Regions from separate parts of the Homo sapiens genome. Here region 1 is linked to region 2. Evidence: fine-mapped expression QTL. A gene starts in region 2. The other region holds a variant in brackets. All regions are shown on one strand. Distances are between the middles of the regions.

Region 1 (13,455 bases), 87 kb after region 2:
CCAGTAACAATGCACCATAAATTAAATTGAAGCCATGGACACTGTAGTATTGAAATCTAGAGACAAAAAAAGAGTTGTTTGCTTTCATCATTGAAGATACTACCTAAAAAGAGGATAGAACAGTAATACGAAGATTATAAAGAAAAATGACCATTCATTAACCACCTCCTATGTACCAAACACTGTATTAAGTACTTTGGTAGATTATTTCTGATCTTTATACCCATGCAAAATAGTTACCATGTCCATTTTATATAGACAACAGCACTCACAAGAGTTATAGAATTTGCCCATGGTTGGTGACCGATTTTAAATCTAAGCCAGTCAGCCTCCAAAAAACATGTTATCCCTCCAAACATTTATGTAGATATGAAAACCAAATTTATTCCTCTAACCAATTATTTACATTGTTATCCTTTCATTAGCAGTAATGCTATTAGAAAATGTTCTGTTGACTCTTTTATTTTGGATCTCTAAAAAATCTAAGAGTAATGGTGGGGGGCGGATAGAGGTATATAAAAAACATTAATTTAGCCCACAGAAGTAGGGAAAATTAAAGCCAGAAAAAAAATAAATAAAGTATACAAAATAGTATTTCTAAAAAGCAGCAATACTTACATAATTGAATACTACAATGAAGTTAAAAAATAAAAATAATATAGATAAAATCATAATCAGTGTCAAACATTGGACTGTGAGACTAAAAGCAGCATAGGAAAGTGTTCCTGTCACCTACCTATGAGTCCAGGTGATACATGACCTCATGTTCCACACTAAAGTATATAATCTCCAACCCCTGATGTTCTACCAGAGGGTTAAAATTACAAATATTGCTACTCGGGAGGCTGAGCCAGGAGAATCACTTGAACCCAGGTTGCAGTGAGCCAAGATCACGCCACTGTACTCCAGCCTGGGCGACAGAGCAAGACTCCATCTCAAAAAAAAAAAAAAAAAATTCCCAATCTAGCTCTTTGGTTTAGCTTTATAAAATCAAAATTCCATTCAACTGGACTCTTCTAGCTTTTACAGACTTTATCCTTCTATAACATTATTTTTCTTGACCTTGTCTCCCCCGCTAGAAAACACCTATAAGGTCCATTACAATAACCTTGAATTGGAAGAGTGATGGAAAACTTCCACATACCACAATGACCCAGCACCTGACTAATCAATCATTCAACAACTGGCATGTGTTTTGGTCATAATTAATATACTATAAGTGGATGAAGAAATTAAAATACTAGCTGATTATGTGAATTATATATCAATAAAGCTGTTAAAAACTACTAAGACTTTCTCCTAATCAAATGATTGAAAGTCACCTACGTATGATAAATGAGTTAGTGTGTAATTAGATTCTGAATACCACACTAAAGAAGCTCTGGGTGGCCGGGCACAGTGGCTCACTCCATTTGTAATCACAGCACTTTGGGAGACTGAGGCAGGAAGATTGCTTGAGCCCAGGAGTACAAGACCAGCCTGGACAACACGGCAAGACCACATCTCTATTAAAAGTAAAAACAAATTAGCCATGCCTTGGTGGCATGTGCCTATAGTCCCAGCTTATCAGTGGGCTGGGGTGGGAAGATCCCTTGAGCCCAGGAGGTCAAGGCTACATTAAGCCGGCATTGTGCCACTGCATTCCAGCCTAGGCAACAAAGTCAGACCCTGCCTCAAAAAAAATAAGAACAGCTTTTCGAGGTAGGAGTCGACTCCTGTGAGGTATGGTGCTGGGTGCAGATGCAGTGTGGCTCTGGATAGCACCTTATGGACAGTTCTGTCCCAAAGGAGGGATGAGAATAGCTACTGAATTGTTTCTTCCCAGGTCCTAAAGAGCAAGCCTAACTCAAGCCATTGGCACACAGGCATTAGACAGAAAGCTGAAGTTGAAATGGTGGAGTCCAACTTGTCTGGACCAGCTTAACGGTTCTGCTCCTGGTAACGTTTTTATCCGTGGATGGCTTGCTTGGGTAAGGACATGAAGACAGTTCCTGTCATACCTTTTAAAGGTATGGAGAGTTGGCTTGACTACCCTGTGTGGAGCAAGTTTTAAAGAAGCAAAGAACTCAGAATTCATGCTTGAAGAAATGCAGGCAGACCTGTTATCCTAAACTAGGGTTTTTAATGACCACAACAAGCAAGCATGCAGCTTACTGCTTGAAAGGGTCTTGCCTCACCCAAGCTGGAGTGCAGCGGCCTTTGAAGCTTACTACAGCCTCAAACTTCTGGGCTCAAGTGATCCTCAGCCTCCCAATGGTCTTTGTAGACCGCCTGATGGAGTCTCATGGCACAAGAAGATTAAAACAATGTCTCCAATTTTAATAAATTTTTGCAATCCAAAAAAAGAAAAAAAATAAGAACAAACAGAATGGGTAGCAGAATGAAAGGGCTGTGAAAGTCACATGTGCTATGGGCCAGCCACATGTTCACATTTCAACAAGGAGGTTACTGCTTCTAGTGCATGCATCTATGTATCTATTCATTTATTTTCAAACAGTGAAGTTTACTAGAAGGAAACAGCAGACAAACTGGAGAGGGCCTAAACTGGAAAGCTGGCTCTGCTACCTGTGACACTCCATAACTTTAAGCCTTGGATCTTCACCTGTAAGATGCCATGACAGCACCTCCTGCCTATAGCTACTGTGAGCATTCAGCGAGACAGGATTTTAAATACCACAAACTAAAATGCACACGTTATTACAATTCCTTACAGTGGGAATTCTAGTTTTACAAACAGGTATTTTTATTTTCACTTAAACACAGAATATTCTCTCTTTATACGATTATACTTTCTAGACAAAATGCTTTGTAATTTGACATTTATTTAAAAACAAAACAAAACAGAAAAACTTCCTCTTCTACGGAGTATCACCTGTCTGCCTCCTCCTGCTTCTCACCTTGGTGCCTGTAAAGATGGTGAAGACTTAGTTCTTTACTACTGGAGGGCAATACTGCTTTAAGGTATGTGATCATGGGGATTTGGATAGATAAGCAAATTATGTCCTCTAAAGCAAGCTACTCTATATTGTGAGACCCCAAGGTAGGAGAACGTTTAGTCTGTTCTTTTAACTTTTAAATTTTGAAGCAGCTTTAACAGGCTTGCTAGCCGGGCGTGGTGGCTCACGCCTGTAATCCCAGCACTTTGGGAGGCTGAGACAGGTGGATCATCTGAATTCAGGAGTAGAGATCTGCCTGACCAATATGGTGAAACCCCGTTTCTACTAAATACAAAAAATTAGCCGGAACTGGTGGCTTATGCCTGTAATCCCAGCTACTTGGGAGGCTAAGGCAGGAGAATCACTTGAACCTGGGAGGTGAAGCTGCAGCAAGCCAAGATTATGCCATTGCACTCCAGCCTGGGCAACAAGAGTGAAACCCAGTCTCAAAAAAAAAAAAAAAAAAAAAGGCTTGCAATTAGTGTATGTCCTTTCTCACCCACAGGAAATCAACTTTCAGATGGAAAGAAATACAAATACCAAGCGTGAAACTCACCTTTTTTTTGTCCTCTTCGGTTCTCATTCTTTCACCATAGACCAAAAACACATGCTGACCAGGATCATAACACCCAGGGGACTGGTCAACCAGCATCAACTGACACCAGCGGAAAAGGTCCCGGAGGTTGAATTCCCAGGGTCCTCCTTTTTGCCCCCATTTCTTCTCAACAGTCACTTCATGATCAATCTAGAAAGAAAACATCCTGATTGGGAAACATGCCCTGCTTACTACTAGGCACTGCATTAAGTACTAGGAATGTACTACAAAAGCATATGTAATCTGAAACAAAAATTAACAGGCTTGATTCAGAGCCTCTTTCTCAAGACTTCCAAATGCCTGGCTTATCCTCTAAGCATTAACACTGGTAGTCACAATACAGAAATGAATTACTGGAAGCCTCCACTACATAGTGTCCCTTCCACTAGAAACCTGTAGAATTCAAAGTAATTTTTTTTAGTTAGAGATCCTGATAATTTGGTAGAACTCTATGTTGAAAAAATACTGGTTCAAATACAGCCAGAAAAAAAAAGAAACCAATACGTGTAGGTACTTACTTGGTTATTGAAAGCAACCATTTTCTTAACAATATTTTTCTCAATGGCTGGAAACAAAGTACTGGCAATGAACTCCATGTCAATTACTGTAAGGGGATCAACGAAGACCTAGAAATCCAAAAATAATATGAAGAAATGCCTTTGTTTCTCTTTACCAAACACTAGAAATGACTACCATGTCTTATTATGCAAAATCTTTAATACCAAGTAACAATACATGAGAAATATAATTTTCAGTTATAGAAATTTCTTTTTTTGTGTTTTGAGAATAAAGAATCATAAAATCTTCTAAATACAGCTGAGTAGAGGTTTTGTTTTTAAGGTCTATTCTAGTGAATTAAAGAAAAAAGAGGCCCAGTGCGGTGGCTCACACCTGTAATCCCAGCACTTTGGGAGGCCAAGGCAGGTGGATCATGAGGTCAAGAGATCAAGACCATCCTGACCAGCATGACGAAACCCTGTCTTCACTAAAAATACAAAAATTAGCTGGGCATAGTGGCATGCGCCTGTAGTCTCAGCTACTCAGGAGGCTGAGGCAGGAGAATTGCTTGCTCCCAGGAGGAGGAGATTGCAGTGAGCCAAGATCACGCCACTGCACTCCAGCCTGGGCGACAGAGCAAGATTCCATCTCAAAAAAAGAAAAAAAAAAGATACATGTTATTAAAAATTTCCTATGTATAATGTAAAATGCTTTTAAATCTGGGTGGTAGATACGAGTATTCACTATAAAAGTCATCCAATTTTTCCATATGTTTGAAAGTTTTCTCAATAAAACATTCTTCTTTTTTTAAGATGGAGTCTCATTCTGTTGCCAAGGCTGGAGTACAATGGCGCGATCTCAGCTCACTGCAACCTCCGCCTCCCGGGTTCAAGAGATTCTGCTGCCTCAGCCTCCTCAGTAGCTGGGATTACAGGCACCTGCCACCACACCCAGCTAATTTTTGTATTTTTAATAGAGACGGGGTTTCGCCATATTGGCCAGACTGGTCTCGAACTCCTGACCTCAGGTGATTCACCTGCCTTGGCCTCCCAAAGTGCTGGGATTACAGGCATGATCCACCATGCCCAGCCAATAAAACATTCTTAAAAGATACTCAGCCAATTCTTAATCATAAGAGACAGTGACACTAAAGAAATCTAGAGACATTTCCAAACCTCTGGATTGGCCAAACTCTGAAAAACTGATGTTAAAACAAGTAAGCATACACATACACAGGTACCCCTCTGCAAGTAAGAATAAAGGCATAAGATACCAAAATGTTAATAATGACTGACTGGGGAATAGTGGATTTTTATTCTTCATAGTAGTTTTCTGTTCTTTCTTTTCTTTAGTTAAAATGCATTATTTTCAATAAAAATTTTTCTTATATATTTCAACAGATCAGAGGGACAATTGAAAAGGTCCAAGATTGGACTTCATCCCAGAGTGCAGTCACAGAATCCTGAAAAGGCTGGGGACCTTACTTTCTTCCAGCTGATAACACATCTAGTCTTCCAGGGCAAAAGATGAAGGACAGAAGCAATGATGGGAATCAGTCACATTAATATTGATCATATAAGGACAAGAAAGAGGATCATTAAGCTGATCCTCTCTAATTCTCATAGTGAATATCCTTAAAGGCTTCATAATAGTAGTCTTATCCCCTCCGAGTCTATCTTTGGTCTCTATGGCAACAGCAAATCTTACCTGAGTGAATCTGTTAAGGAAAGACCTGGGCAAGCCTTTCCTCCCACCTCCTTGTCTAAAGGGATTCTGACACCCAAAAATCTTCGTCTTTTCATGCTGCACTTGAAAGCTCATTCCTAACTCAGGCACATAGATTTCTCCTCGGTGGTCAAAACAAGCATTGAGTCCTTCCAATACAGACTGAGAAGCCAGGTTAAGCTATTTAAAGAAGAAAGTACATAATTTGTCTCAAATATATTATACAACTGCAACAAAAAGCAGGGGAATAATATGCAGCAAATAAAGCTAGAGTTATCTTCAGAAAGGGAATTTCAAACAATATTGATAACCTTCTGTATTTTTGGCTGAGTTATGGTTGGTTTGTCTTCATTCTATTATGCTTTTGTTTTTGAGACAGGGTTTCACTCTGTCACTCAGGCTGCAGTGCAGTGGCACAATCACAGCTCACTGCAACCTCTACCTCCAGGGCTCAAGAGATCCTCCCATCTCAGCCTGCTGCATAGCTGTGACCACAGGTGTGCACCACCACATCCAGCTAATTCTTTTTTTTTTTTTTTTGGTAGAGCCAAGGTCTTGTTATGTTGTCCAGGATGGTCTCAAACTCCCGGGCTCAAGTAATTCTCCAACCTTAGCTTCCCAATGTTAGAATTACAGGCATAAGCCACTGTACCTGGTCCAATTCTATTATTCTTTATTTCCCATGTATGTTAGAGATTTTGTCTGGTATTTTATACACACACACACACACACACACACACACACACACACACGTATATATACACACATATATTAATAATCTTTAAACTGAATAAATGCTCAAATTAAATTTTAAAGTTAAGAATCTTCTCAAAAGTTAAACTGTATCCATTACATATAACCTATATTAACCTGCTCTGTAAGTAATAACTTGCAGAAAAACTTGCCAATACACAGATATTTCATTTTCACAATCTGAGTTTTTAAGATGTGTAACACAAATTAGCCAGGAGTGGTGGCTCATGCCTGTAATCCCAACACTTTGGAAGGCCGAGGCAGGTGGATCACTTGAGGCCAGGAGTTCAAGACCAGGCGGGCCAACATAGCGAAACCTTGTCTCTACTAAAAATACAAAACTTAGACATTGTGGTGCATGACTGTAATCCCAGCTACTCAGGTGGCTGAGGCAGGAGATTCACGATTCAGTTGAACCTGGGAGGAGGAGGTTACAATGAGCCGAGAACCCACCACTGCACTCCAGCCTGGGCGGCAGACTGAGACTCTGCCTAAAAAAAAAAAGAAAAATAGAAAAAAAAAAAAAAGAAAAGAAAAAGAAAAAGACATGTAACACTAATTGTAGAGAATAGATAAGGTTTGTTAACTCTTTAAATACTTTCCCATCTCAAACACTGAACAAAATCTCCAACGGGTTTCAAAGTCAGGATATAAAGTGAGTTAATACAGCTGATTTCCACCAATTTTGTAAATAAGAACAATTACAAGGGGCTCTTGTGCCAGGATGAAAAGAGCTGAATGTAGGTCTTCAGATGAGTAGTTCAGAGCTCAGGGATGTGAAGCATGTGTGGTTTGTTGGTAACATAGAAAAAGGAGATCGGGAAAATACAAGTTATTAAAATGCAAACAGGCAAAAATCAGAGCACACTACATTAGAATTTCAAGTGTCATGTTTACACAAGCACCACAAAGCACAAACACTTCTGTATATTCCCAAACAGAAGGCCGCTCTTAAATGTGTTTATAAATCTAGAATGTCTTGTCGTCCCTGAATGCAATTCCACTAAATATGCAATTCCACTAAATACTAAGTATGGTCAGTAGCCTTCAGCTTTAAAACTAGGCTTTCTCTTTTCCTGGCTAATATATATTCTATCAGACATCTTGTTCAAAAAAAAATCTGAAAAATGGAAAAAAATTCCCTCTCCTTGTTATCCCAAGAATAAAAGGCAGAAAGCAGCTCAGCAGACAGGAGTCCCACAGCACCCTCTCTGATGATCAGACCCAGGAGTCTGAACCTGGGGGACCTGTTGCAGCCTGTGTCCAAAGTCTCACCTGTGACACGTACATCACTCTAATCATTTCAGCTCCACAAATATTTCTAGCCTTTTCCTGAATATTGTACACCCCAAACTGACCCAGCTCCATATCTCTAGTTGTCAGAGATTCAGTATTTATCATGTCTCATACTCTGCTCTTTCTTCTGATGAATAATTTACCCCATATGCACACATAACGGATCGTTTCCTCATTTC[A/G]GTAGGTCATTTTGTATGTCTTTCCTTAGTCTCTCCGGTGCACTAATAAAACATGAAGCGGTTGACGCTATTTATAAAATGCCTCTAAAATAAATGCAGAAACGGCAAGCCTGTCAGAGACTAAACTAGTGACGATGCAGTTTTCCTCTGAAGGATAACTTTAAACAGTGGGAGAGTTTGTAGGTTTTATGTACAAGGGCCTCTTTTTGTGTATTCTGCCAAGTGACCTTCCTCATTCTTAAAGAAAACTACAGAGGATCTTTTCATTAGAGAAAAGTCATCAGCGGGATCTTCCACTGAGAAATGGATTGTGAAATGGAGCTGTGAAAGGATGACTGCTCCTCACACACATGATCACCGTCTTGGGCATGACAAACAGGCCCCTCACCTCATCCAACACCACCCAATGGCCTGCCTTCAAAGCTGCCAGTAAGGGGCCATCACGCCAGGCAAACTCTCCTCCCTTGCCACCTTCAACAGGTAGATCTGCTCCAAACAGGTCTGTGATGTCCTTTGAAAGGGGAAGAAATGGAAAGAAGCCATTATTACTTTAAAAATCAACTGGATTCTAACACCCTAAATCTGAAATGATAAATACTTGGGGCTGGCACCACTACTCTTCCTTCCTACACCCAAGATAGAACTAACCAATCCCAGCTCTCTTTACCAGGAGCCCAAACATGCCCCCAAGAACTTTCCCAACATGTTCCATATATCAATCAATTTGAGCTGGTGCTCTAGATTAACAGTTCTCAACATTGGCTGTACTTGGAATTTAATTGACAGGCTTAAAAAAAAAAGAAAACAAAATCCTATTCCAAAGGATTCTCATTCAATTTGTCATCTGTACCATATTTTCCTTAGATTGTTAAAAGTCATTTTATTTCTACCACTTTTTAAAAAAAAATTTAAGCAAAAAATTAACTGGGGTTATATTACAATAAATACCAAAGTGGATAATTCTCTCTCGAAAGAGAATTAGAATAAAGCATCCAGAGAGAATTAATATTATAGGTGTCAGCAATTAACAAATCCAAAGAAGATTTAGTTTGGAAGGTCATGTTGCTGTGGGCTTTATTATGATATGAAATATCTGAGGATACAGGCCAGGCGCCATGGCTTACGCCTGTAATCCCAACACTTTGGGAGGCCAAGGCAGGTGGATCACTTGACATAAGGAGTTTGAGACCAGCCTGGCCAACATGGTGAAACCCTGTCTCTAATAATAATACAAAAATTAGCTAGGTGTGGTGGCGGGCACCTGTAATCCCAGTGATTAGGGAGACTGAGGCAGGAGAATTGCACCCCACTGCACTCCAGCCTGGGCAACAGAACGAGACTCTGTCTCAAAAAAACAAAGAAAAGAAAAGAAAAGAAAAATTTGAGGATACTGATAATGTAATCATTTCTGATTAGGCAAATATAAATTGACACAGACATTACTATCTATAGCTATCTCCATCAGCTGTAGGATGACCGAGCTTACCGTTTGCTCTGATAAGTTGATTCTAACAAGGGTATTTCCTGAAGCCTTTGCTAATGCTCCCACCAAACTTGTCTTGCCAACACCAGGGGAACCCTCCAGGAGAATGGGCTTCTTCAGTTTGGTAGCTCTTAAGAGCCTCTGTGCATTCATAGCAGTGGTCCCTGCACTGAGTGCATAGTCTGCAATATTATTCCTGTGTAGGACAGGTCCTTAAGTGGAGAAAAGTAAAGTCATGTATAAGCGGGACATCATCAAATCACATGTATGCATCAACTCAAGATTTTAAAAATCTACCACATGGGTTATCAGTTAGTGAAATACCATTTGCAGTGAAAATGTTCAATCCCTATTTCAATATTTCCCCACTTTTAGATCCATAAAATGCTTTAAAGGAATATCCAATAACACGTTTTCTTCAACAGTGCCTACTACACAGATCTCTCCATCTCCTATACACATACATGTACATGCAAACACACACCTGTCCTTTCACAACCTACACCCTGAATCACTGTATGTACTTGTACAATTTACCTTCATAGTTACTTTCCTAAAAACCAAGTGTAAGCTAGGCATATGGGCCACATGGTTCCACATAATCAACTTCATCCAATGTTTTTGGCCACCAAAACAATTCACACTGTGTCCTTAACCTGTAAGTTAACTGATATGCAGGACTAATAACAGTCTTGTAATATTTAACATTTGTGCCACTGTCTCTTGGAAGAAGTTTTTGTTTTGTTTTCGTTTTTTTTTTTTTTTTTTTTTGTACACCAGTTTGAAGGGAGTGAGGCTAGGAAAACATTTATTACCTCACCCTTGGTAGCAGAAGCAAGGACCACCCCAGTTCTAGGCCACTAGCATGTATCTCCTACACAGGAGCACTGAGTCCTATGATGGTGGCTTAGAGAAGGGATTTGATGGTTAGATTATACAGCCCATCAGGGATGAAGAGAGAATACTGCTAAGGAGAGATGGAGCTCTGAGGACAGGGGCAAGGGCAATGGAACCTGGACTGGTTATGTTCACCACTGAAACCCCAGTAATTGCCACTGCAACTCCATATACTTCAGGCATTCATCAATCATTAACATAGAGAGGGCGGAGGGACAAGAAACAGATGACTCTGCTACAGAAACAACATCCTGAAAAAGTAGAAGCACCTTAGAAGTAGCTAATCTAACTGCCTCATTTAAATACTTGGTAGAGACAATCTAGTTAGATAGAAAGAGAGAAAGAATTAGAACACAAACCCACTATCTCCTAGACTACTGCATTTCCCATTTAATCATTCACTCATCCATCAGAAATTTTCTGAGTGCCTATGACTGTGAGGCCTAAATGTCAGATGCCAGGGACCGGATCAGGAATGACACATTACCAGCCTTCAAGGGTTCACAAAACCTGTTTCTGTAAAAGATGATGAGGTTGTATAGTTAAGATACATTATAGGCTAAATAGGTCTTTGCAAGCCACTTAAAAGTTTATTGTCAACATTAGTAGAGTTTAGAGCTTTACTATAGGAAAGTTCCTAATGTGGGAACCAACTAATAAAAAAATAAGCACTGTATAAGACAATCTATTTATAGATTGAAGTCTCTATTTCCCTCTATTTTTACATGCCAGTCAGGTATTTTCAACCATTCACACAATTATGGTTATTCTCAAGTCAGAATCTAACTCAGTTAGTGCAAATATAATCATGAGTATTACACATTAAAACTAAGTCACAATAAAAGCCAAGTATCTATGATCTATAGAAAAGGAAAATTCATTTTTTAAAAATCATTCTTACCCCTTGGTATAAAAAATGGATGAATTCCCCAAAGGTTATCTATTCCAGTGAATTCTTTGGCCTTCATTCTGTCATAAATCTTCAACTCATTTTTCTGATATTCTGTAAGTCGTACTATCTTGGCAAGCCTCTTGATTAGAAATTTCAGACATTCTTTTCGTGCCAAAAGGGCTGTACCAAACCCAGAGGAAGTTACCCCTAAAAGACAGAGGATCAGTCCATGAAGCAACAGTACAACACCAAGCTTCACCACCATTAAGCAGGAGCTCTAGCACAGGTTCCCGGAAAAAAGAGGCCTCAGCAAAACTGCAGCCTAAATGTGATTTCTAGTGTAAGCAGTCCTAAGAAAGAAGTCCAACACGCATCCCCCACAATCTATGGATTATCAATTAAGCAGCAGATCATTCAGTAAAGCACTCTAGTCACTCAGTGATAAATCAGCCTACATACAGTACCTAATATGGCACTAGTAACCATTTTTATTTATATTTCAAATCTTCATGGCTGAAAAACCACAGTGATTTTTATGACATTAAAATAAACTTAAAATATTCAGGCCCATTATCAAAAAATTACTACTCATGTTAAACATTGGCCAGTGCTTCTATTCACAATAGCAAAGACTTGGAACCAACCCGAATGTCCATCAATGATAGACTGGATAAAGAAAATGTGGCACATATACAGCATGGAATACTACGCAGCCATAAAAAATAAGTGCATGTTCTTTGCAGGGTCATGGATGAGGCTGGAAACCATCATCCTCAGCAAACTAACACAGGAACAGAAAACCAAACACCACATGTTCTCACTCATAAGTGGGAGTTGAACAATGAGAACACATGGACACAGGGAGGGGAACATCACATACTGGGGCCTGTCAGGGGATGGGGGGCAAGGGGAGGGAGAGCATTAGGACAAATACCTAATGCATGAGGAGCTTAAAACCTAGATGACGGGTTGATGGGTGCGGCAAACCACCATGGCACATGTATACTTATGTAACAAACCCGCATATTCGGTTTCTCTTCAAATAATCTGATCAATCTTTTATTCTTTAATTCATAGTACCGCCCCCCCCCCCCACCTTTTCCTTTTTCTCCTTTTTTCCTTTGTTAAATGCCCAGGCATGCCACAATACCAGGCGTTATCAATACCAGCTCACATTCCTTTCCTTATTTAAAAAAAAAAAACTAACTTTCTAACTCATTACAAACACCCCTCCCCCTTCCTCTCCACTTTCTTTAACATGTCCACCTTATCTAAAAAAATTCAAATGTCTAGCCAACCAAAATGAGTTTAAATTATACAACCCAACCCCGGCCAATAAAAGAAAAATACAAAAACAAAACTTGCATCAAAAATAAAGGCTCTCGTGCCCTTTGTTCAAGTGTACTCTCATGGCAACTGGCCAAAAAAACACCCCTCTGCACAAAAATAAAATTGCTTTGCTAAAAACCCTTTGTTTAAGTGTTCAATTTCTTTACAATTTTAAGCATTATTCCTAACACATGTATCCCAGAACTTAATTTAAAAAAAAAAAAAAAAGCCAGTGCTTCAGAAGCAAAGACATTTCAGCAGTCTTTACTCTACTCATAATCACCACTTCATGTTTGTTAAGTACCTGGTCTACCAGCTTTGAGAAGTTGCAGTGTATCCTGTGTGCCAATCACCTTTCAAAGAGTACAAACAAAAGGAAAGCCATTCTGAGTTTTAGAAATGTTCTGAGAAGTGATTCAGTAAAATAGCTGGGTCAGAGGCCTGGGCTTGCTCCTTTTCCTATGCCCCTCTATACGAGCCCCTTGTCCCCACCAGCTACCAGACAACATACCTGAACCTATTCCATCTATGTACACCAGGCATGCAGCATGGACAAAAGATGTCACAGTGGAGATGATCTCTGGCCTTTTCAAAGCAGCTTCCTCCCCCATTTTGTTCATGAAGTTAACCCAGGACAGGATATCTCTGATACTGACCACACACTTTCTGCCAAACTCTTGGTGGGTCAGCCAGTCAATGAAATCCAGCATCACTTCAGGTATGTCAGACCCTAAACACAAGAAACAAAAAAAGCATTTGCTGTTAACGGGAGATCCCAGAACAAAAGTTCATAACCAGGGGCACACAAATGGCCTAAAAGGGGTCTCTGCTCCTTCTAAGCAAAGTTCTGTGAATGAATGTACATAAATGCT
Region 2 (8,000 bases):
AAAACTTCTAACTTGATGGCACTTTTTTATTTTTTTTGAGACAAGAGTCTCACTCTTTCGCCCAGGCTGTAGTGCAGTAGTGTGTTCTCGGCTCACTGCAGCCTCTGCCTCCCGGGTTCAATATGAGGCAGCCCTCCTGAGTAGCTGGAATTACAGGCACGTGCCACCAGGTTAGGCTAGCTAGTGGCCTAGCTAGTCTCGAAATCCTGACCTAAAGTGATCCACCCACCTCAGCCTCCCAAAGTGTGTGGATTACTTGTGTAAGCCACAGTGCCCGGCCTTACCTGCTTTAAAAAACAAAAAAACTTAGGTTTTCTTGGAGTCTGTGCTAGTTGAATCTTGCAAATGCAAACCACATACGCTCTTTAATGAAAACCTTTCCATGCACACCACTGTTAGGAAGAGCATCATTAAATCACTGACTTCTACACCCATAAAAGGATGATTTTGAGTTTCAAGATTTTAGATTTACTAGAGATAGCATGTATCTATCAATCATGTCACACAAAAAATATTTCCAAAGTGTTCTCTGTTCAGAAACGTCACAAATGCTTCTGTTTGTCAGATCATTTTGCAACAGGTTAACTAATACTTATCTACATAAAAACCTGAAAATTGGCACAGGCAGGCATTTTGAATTAGTAGATTACCCCCATGGAACAGTATTCAGAATTATTTTGTCTTGTGGGCTCTGAGGCTCTGGGAGGTAGAGGTGGACCCTGACAGTCCAGGTCATTAACATCCACATTCAGTTGATGCCTCTCAGACACAGTCCAGTACTGGATACCATTTATCATTCTGCAAAATGTTGTCTACATCTTTCAGGTGCTGGTCATTCTTAGATTAGCTTCTTAGCTGTTCTGTTGATAAACAGAAGACTTCAATTTTCAGGATGGATGATTCCAACATCTTCCACAAGCTTTCACTTTCACTAAATTATTTTGTTATAAATTTGATCTCCTTCAAAAGTGCCTTGAAGTCAATTTTGGTTGTAATGTATTTGTCTCTGACGTATTCTTCAAATTCTCTTTGTTTTTTTTCCTGTCATTGGAGAACTGCACCCAGAATCTTATTTTTACTACTTCCATGTGAATGTTAAGGTACTCACAGAGGTTTCATCCAGAAGTCTTCCCTCTTCTTTCTGGTAAGTGCTTCAATGTGCTCATTAAGCTTCTCTTTCTCTTCCCTTTTCAACAAAGATCTAGATTCCCAGTGGTGATCTTTTTGATGAGTTCTCTATCAAACTATGACACATCTGAAGAACGTACCTGAACAACCCTCAGGGATAATGCAGGATTTTTCGAGAAAGTTCCAGGGTATCTCCTGGTGTCAGTATACTTTCAGTCCTACACCTCAAGAGTTTTTTAATAACAGCTTTATTGAGATACAATTCATACCTTACATTTAAAATGTACAGTTCAGTGGATTTGAATATATTCAAGAGTTGTGCAGCCTACACCACAAGCTAACTGTAGGATATTTTCATCACCCTGAAAAGGAACCCTACACCCATTAGCAGTTACTCCATTCCATCTACAGCCAGCCTAGGCAACCACTAATCTTTCTGCCTATTCTGGACATTTCGTATGAATGGAATCATCATGTGATCTTTTGTGACCGGCTTCTTTCACTTAACGTTTTCAAGGTTTATCCATGTTTAGTATATATAAGTCCTTCGTTTCTTTTTAGTGCCAAATAATGGCTATGGGCATGGGGTAGAAGTGCTAACTCATACAGCAGCTGTTTCATCTTTTGAGGAACTGACCGTCTGTTTTCTGAAGTGGCTACACCATTTTACATTCCCACCAGCAATGTATGAGGGTTCTGTAATTTCTGTACATCTTCACCAAGACTTATTATTATTTCTCTTTTTAATTACAGCCATTCTAGTGAATGTGAATCTCAGGGTTGTTTTTTTTTTTTTTTTTTAGAGACTGTCTCACTCTGTCACCCAGGCTGAAGTGCAGTGGCACGACCTCAGCTCACTGCAACCTCCACTTCCTGGGTTCAAGTGATTCTCCTGCCTCAGCCTCCCAAGTAGCTGGGACTACAGGCAATGCACCACCACACCAAGCTAATTTTTGTATTTTTAGTAGAGATGAGGTTTCACCATGCTGGCCAGGCTGGTCTTGAACTCCTGACCTCAAGTGATCCACCTACCACAGCCTCCTAAAGTACTGGGATTACAAGCATGAGCCACTACACCCGACCTCATAGTAGTTTTGATTTACACTTCCCTAATGATTGTGTCCAGCATCTACTGGCCATTTGTTAGTGGTTTTTTTCTTCTTTTAAGAACTGCTGAGACATCCATAAACATTTTCAAAATGCAGGGTATGTTTTTCAGTGTTAAGGCAACTGTTCTGATGTGTTTTTCCTTTGCTCTCTATCACCAAATACTGTACATATAAATAGTAAGACTGGGCTTTGTGTTGTCCATTGTTAATCCTAAATGCAACAAAACACATGGAGACTTTGAAAATCCTTCAGAATAATGCTATAGTTAAGATTTTGCTAAAGCAAGTGTTTTTTCTAACTCCTTGAGCTGCATATTGCCTTGAGTAATCATCATCCGGATTGTATCCTGTAGAATAAAGTGAAATCTGGTTATAGTTTTACCTGGTTAAACAAGGTATAGCTATACCATTTTATCTGTTAAAATCAAGAACCAATACTACCTATTGGAACTGCTGCCTTTTAGAAAAGCTAAAAGAGTTCCACATACATACATATAAAATGTACAACATAAAAGTCAAGTGATGATGCTGAAGAGTGTAGATACTCTTTTATCTACATATTTTAAAATACTAAATTTTAAAATAATAATTTAAAATCGGTAACATTACAAGCAATGATCAAGATATACCAGCTCAGTGGCACTATATTCCAAGATGTCTGCTAAACTTAAAAAAAAAAATTCACTGATCAATAAAAAGGGTTAGGATCTGTCCTCACCATGATTTTGTTCTCACCTCTTCGGTGGCACTTTTGTTTCTTCTGAATTCTTCTCTTGCCCAATCTTTCAGGTATTTGCGATCAGAATCATTTGGAACTTGCCGAATTGTTTGCAAAATCCTTCTGTAGAGGAGAAGAACTTGTTGCCTTCTTACGAACTGTAAAAGGGAGGAGTAAATAGCAATTACTACTGCACAATCGCCAGCCTGGAAAGTTCTACTTCAGCAAACCAAGCTGTAACCAGAGTACTTCTCGTTGGTCAATTTTGAAAAAGGCAAAGAAAAACTTTTTTTTTTCTTTTTTTGGCCAGATGCAGTGGCTCAGGCCTGTAATCCCAGCACTTTGGGAGGCCAAGATGGGAGGATCACTTGAGCCCAGGAGGTCTAAGCTGAGGTAAGCCTTCATTGCGCTACTGCACTCAGCCTGGGCGAGAGTGAGGCCCTGTCTCAAAAAGATGTTTTAAAGAAAGCATCACGAGGTTCATCTGATCTTTTTGCTTACTGCTCTGTCAAACCTAAGAACCATTAAAAAATCAGGAGCTGCCTACCGGGCTGAAAAGGGCTGCCGGTCTCCTAGAAGTTGTTATTACAACGACAGCACTTTTTCTAAATTAACAGTTGTTCAAATCTTTGGTAATCTCATTTGCTGTTTGCCACAGCTCAGTGCAATAGACTTTTACCGTGGGCACTGGGCAGCTGAGGCACCGGGACTCAGGGAAATCAAGCGCCTGACGCTGTCTCACGCGATCGCACCAAACCAAGGAAGCAGCCAGTGCCTCCCGTCAGGCCCCGCGGAGCGAAGCACCGCCCCGCAGGCATCGGGCCAATCTCAGAGGGCGCGCACGCCGCATCAGGACCCCGGAACCCGCCCCGTTGGGGATAGGGACAGATGGAGAATCCAGCTCAGACCCAGGTAAGCTGCTTTGGAAGGCAGAGAACCGCCGGTACCTGCTTTAACGTTAGCGTCGCTGGGGGTAAGCGGGAAGCAGCCATGTCCACCAGAGGTCCGCCGGAGCCTCAGCGCGCAGGAGCGGAAGTGGGGTTCGACCAAGGGGTGTGGCGAGCCCGGTTTCCTAGGAGACGGCCCGCGGGTTGCTCTCGGACTGAGAGCGCGAGGCTTCGGGACTGAGCCCTAGCTGCTGCGCTGGCCGAAGTTTTCTCGTCGGTAAAATAGGATAACAGTGCACCATAGGGTCGTTTTGATAAAGAAGAAAGGTAGGGCACTTAACACAGTTCCTGGTAAAGAGAGTTCAAATGAAAGTGAAGGAGGCCGGGCGCGGTGGCTCTCACCTGCAGTCCCAAGCACTCTGGGAGGCCTGTAAGGTGCCTGTAATCCCAGCTCCTCGGGATGCTGAGGCAGGAGAATCGCTTGAACCCGAGAAGTGAAGGTTGCAGTGATCCGAGATCGCACCACTGCACTCCATCCTGGGCGACAGAGCGAGACCCTGTCTCGAAAAAAAAGTTAAGGTTTTTTTGGGGGAAAGAGGTGAAAACGTATTTAAATGTTCTTTCGAGCCTTTAAAAATGTGTATAGTTGAAAATACTAAAATTGAAAGTGTTAATTTCTTTTACAGTTTGTGTTGGTTTTTTCTCTTTCTCGTTTTTGTCCTGTTCTTTTGTAGCGCAAAGGTTTTCCGGGAGCGGTGGCCTTCATGATCATTTGAAACAAAGCTTTGAATGGCTCACCCACTTCAGTCTTAAGCACTTTTCATCACTAATAACGAGGAGCCTAACATCCCTAAGCCTCAGGCTTTTGCTTTTATTTCCTTATAGTTGTTTTATCTTTCCCACAATACACATGCCTTTGGGTTAAATCACTAGAAGTGGAGTTAGCGAATCTTTGCCATATTAATTTTCCAAGTGGTGTTGTATCGAATTAAAATAGAACGAAAAATGTTCAATTACTAGTTTACTGGGGACTTGCTTGCCTCGCCTGTTAGCATCCTGGGGCTCCCTATTCCTAGCTGTGTTCTGGCTATTTCCCCTCTCCTGGCCTATTACCTCCCCTGTAAAGTGAAATATAGCATCTACCTCAGTTGTGTATCTCTAATGTACTGAGAACAGGTCCTGGCACATGTAAGAACTCTAATCATTAGCTCTTTTGAACTTTACCAGGCATTGTATGAATGATGCTAACTGCATGATCATATTATCAATAATATATGCCAAATTTTGTCTAATACATTAGCTGTAATAGTTAATTGCTAACTTTTTAAAAGGAGTGAAGTTAAATACCCCTCGCCATTTTTAGTTATACTGTTTTTGTGAATTGTTCATGACTTGGGTCCGTTTATGATGAGGACATTTATATGGGCTCTATATTTTTTGTCATTTCTTTATACATACAGAAACTTTATACAATCATGTATTTTTGTGCCTTTTGAGGCTTTTCATTTCCCATTCAGGCCTTTGTAATTCGTTTTTTAAAAACTTTAATTTTTAAAATATTTACTCCATCTAGAATTTACTTTGGTTTACAGCATCACGTGGATCTAAGTTCTTTTCTAGATGTTAAGCTGTATCAATACCATTGATTACATAACTCATTCCTTTTTCGGGGCTTTATGATGGATGCCTTTTTGACTGTATGATAAATTCTTTTAGGGTCTGAGTAATCTGTCCAGAATTGTTTCATTTAGGGTTAAGTTTTTACTTTTTGTTTTATATGTTTTTATTATCTGGCAGGACTCTAGTTTCTTGTAAAAAATCCATTAGTACTGTTCTCTATAATCTTTAGAAATGTTTTGTATCATTTCCCTCCAAATCATCTTGTGATCTTGGTTGGAATTTTGAAGTAGTGTTGAATCTATACATTAATATGTGAGAAAGACATTTTTACATTATTTCTTCTTCCCATCAAGAAACACTCAGGCCAGGTGCGGTGGCTCATGCCTATAATCCCAACACTTTGGGATACCGAGGTGGATCACCTGAGGTCAGGAGTTCGAGACCAGCCTGGCCAACATGGTGAAACCTCGTCTCTACTAAAATACAAAAAATTAGCCGGGCCTGGTGGCGCACGCCTGTGGTCCCAGCTACTTGGGAGGCTCAGGCAGGAGAATCGCTTGAACCTGGGAGACGGAGGTTGCAGTGAGCCGAGATTGCGCCATTGCACTCCAGCCTGGGCAACAAGAGCAAAGCTCTATTTAAAAAAAAAAAAAAAAAAAAAAAAGGGCTCACTCTTGCTAGACACTGGTAATGCTGTCGTGAGTCACATATGCTCCTTGCTCAAAGACTCATGCTTTGGGCAGGAAAACCTCTAAGTTCAATATAGTGCTAACAAAGAATGCTGCAGTTCATACTGTGGGAAATTATTCTTCCTGGAGGGCTTGTCTGAGCTAGGTATTTGTCAGAAACGCAGAATCACTAAGAGGATTCCAGACAACACATGGAAACACTGGCAGGAATGCTGGGAGAGGAGGGACAGGAGAGTCAAGCAAGAGCCTCACAGGTCACATGAAGAAGCTTGAATATTACCCTCTTCACAAGGGAGAGCTTTGAAGGGATTTTCAGCTACAGAACTTTTAGAAAGATCTTGGATGTTGTGAATAGGATGAAGTGAAGCAAGCAAAGAGAAGTTACTGGCCTGGCCAGGATACCATTGAAGTAGTCCCTGCTAGAGATTAAAAGAGTCCCAGTCACAGTGCAGTAGGGGGAGGGGGAGGGATGGGACAGGATATCCAGAAGCCTGACTGGACAAGATGATTAATTAATTTGATTGGGGTATGGATAGAGATGGAGAAGGAAGTAAAGCAGATGTATAGGTTAAGTCCCAAGTTTGTAAACAGGGTGGCTGTTGGAGTGGTCATCCCAGATGGGGAATGTTGAAGGAATGGGTTTGGAATAGGGGAATTAGAACACAGTGACATCCAGCAGATGTCTGAATATAATTAAGAATACCAAAGAGTAGATTTCCTGGACCCCTGGATGGAGAATTTTACAGTCCTTTTGCTTCAGTGATGGTGGAGGCCACGGGAGTGGTGAAGAAGTTATCCAAAGTGAGATTTTATTGTTGTTGTTGAGATAGAGTCTTGCTCTGTTGCCCAGGCTGGAGTGCAGTGGCACAATCTCAGTTCACTGCAACCTCCACCTCCTGGTTCAAGCAGTTCTCCTGCCTCAGCCTCCCAAGTAGCTTGGGATTACAGGTGCGCGTCACCACACCCAGCTAATTTTCTGTATTTTTAGTAGAGATGGGGTTTCACCATATGGGCCAGCCTGGTCTCAAACTAACTCCTAACCTTAAGTGATCCACCCACCTTGGCCTCCCAAAGTGCTGGGATTATAGGCGTGAGCCACTGCACCCAGCCCCAAAGTGAGATTTTTAAGACAGCATGGAGGACTTTTGTGTTCTGCTGTCCATTCCTTAAATATCAGAACTTACTTACTTACCTATTTGGCCAAGGCCTGGGGGGTTGGGGGAGGGGGGGGTGGGCAGGATAGCACAAATGTCAACTATCAACATGGCAGATTAATTGATCACTACTCCTGCAAGCCCCTGTTGGCAGCACAAGTTGAAAATGGCACTCTTGGGTTCCTGCTTCCTGGAATTCCTACTGTCCATGATCTCATGAGCTAACCCAGGGCCAAGGGAATCACTCTGGGCACACCAGTTTGAGGTCTAAGAAAGATGGAGCTTCCAAAGGCAGATGTAATAGACTGCAGCATTGTCATAATATTGGTGTCTTTCCCTCCCAGACTCAACCCTACTGGAAGATTAAACTCCCTGCCCCATAGAGGGCTTTAGCCAATGAAATGTGAGTGGGATGCAACATCATCATTTATGGAGGATAATTAATTTTTATAAGCCTCCTTATAAGGCTACACCAACTCATCCTTTTCATTCTGCTGCAAAGCCAGCATATTATAGCTCAGCCTACCATGGACATAAATGCAAATGATAACCTTTGTAGTAAGAGCAACATGGAAGTAGGAGGGGATCATGTTAGCACAGCATCAACTAGTAACAGCTGACTGACTGATCCAGCAGAGAAGATCAGTCCCCTAGCATACCTTTTACAATCCTGTCATCTTCCATTAAGAAGAGTC

What was found.
Region 1: its variant is fine-mapped to the expression of LYRM2 in whole blood (TOPMed, PIP above 0.99).

The regions. Positions count from the first base shown.
Region 1 is chr6:89,719,463-89,732,917 of GRCh38, forward strand. It overlaps MDN1 (midasin AAA ATPase 1), which reads right to left. Exons shown (of 102, transcript NM_014611.3): 34 at 13,095-13,313; 35 at 11,264-11,461; 36 at 9,469-9,677; 37 at 8,371-8,493; 38 at 5,737-5,934; 39 at 4,050-4,157; 40 at 3,493-3,681. Among named protein-coding and RNA genes, the nearest start is that of LYRM2, 87 kb to the left of the region's middle. RefSeq lists an enhancer at 1,700-2,201. The variant A/G (reference allele first, on the strand shown) is at 7,983.
Region 2 is chr6:89,634,770-89,642,769 of GRCh38, forward strand. It overlaps LYRM2 (LYR motif containing 2), which reads right to left and starts at 3,978. Exons shown (of 3, transcript NM_020466.5): 1 at 3,903-3,978; 2 at 2,973-3,113; 3 at 1-2,584. The coding sequence starts at 3,947. The coding sequence ends at 2,504. MDN1 (midasin AAA ATPase 1) reads right to left here. Exons shown (of 102, transcript NM_014611.3): 102 at 7,729-8,000. It overlaps MDN1-AS1 (MDN1 antisense RNA 1), which reads left to right and starts at 3,763. Exons shown (of 4, transcript NR_111915.1): 1 at 3,763-3,867. RefSeq lists enhancers at 2,726-3,925, 3,278-3,507, 3,728-3,777.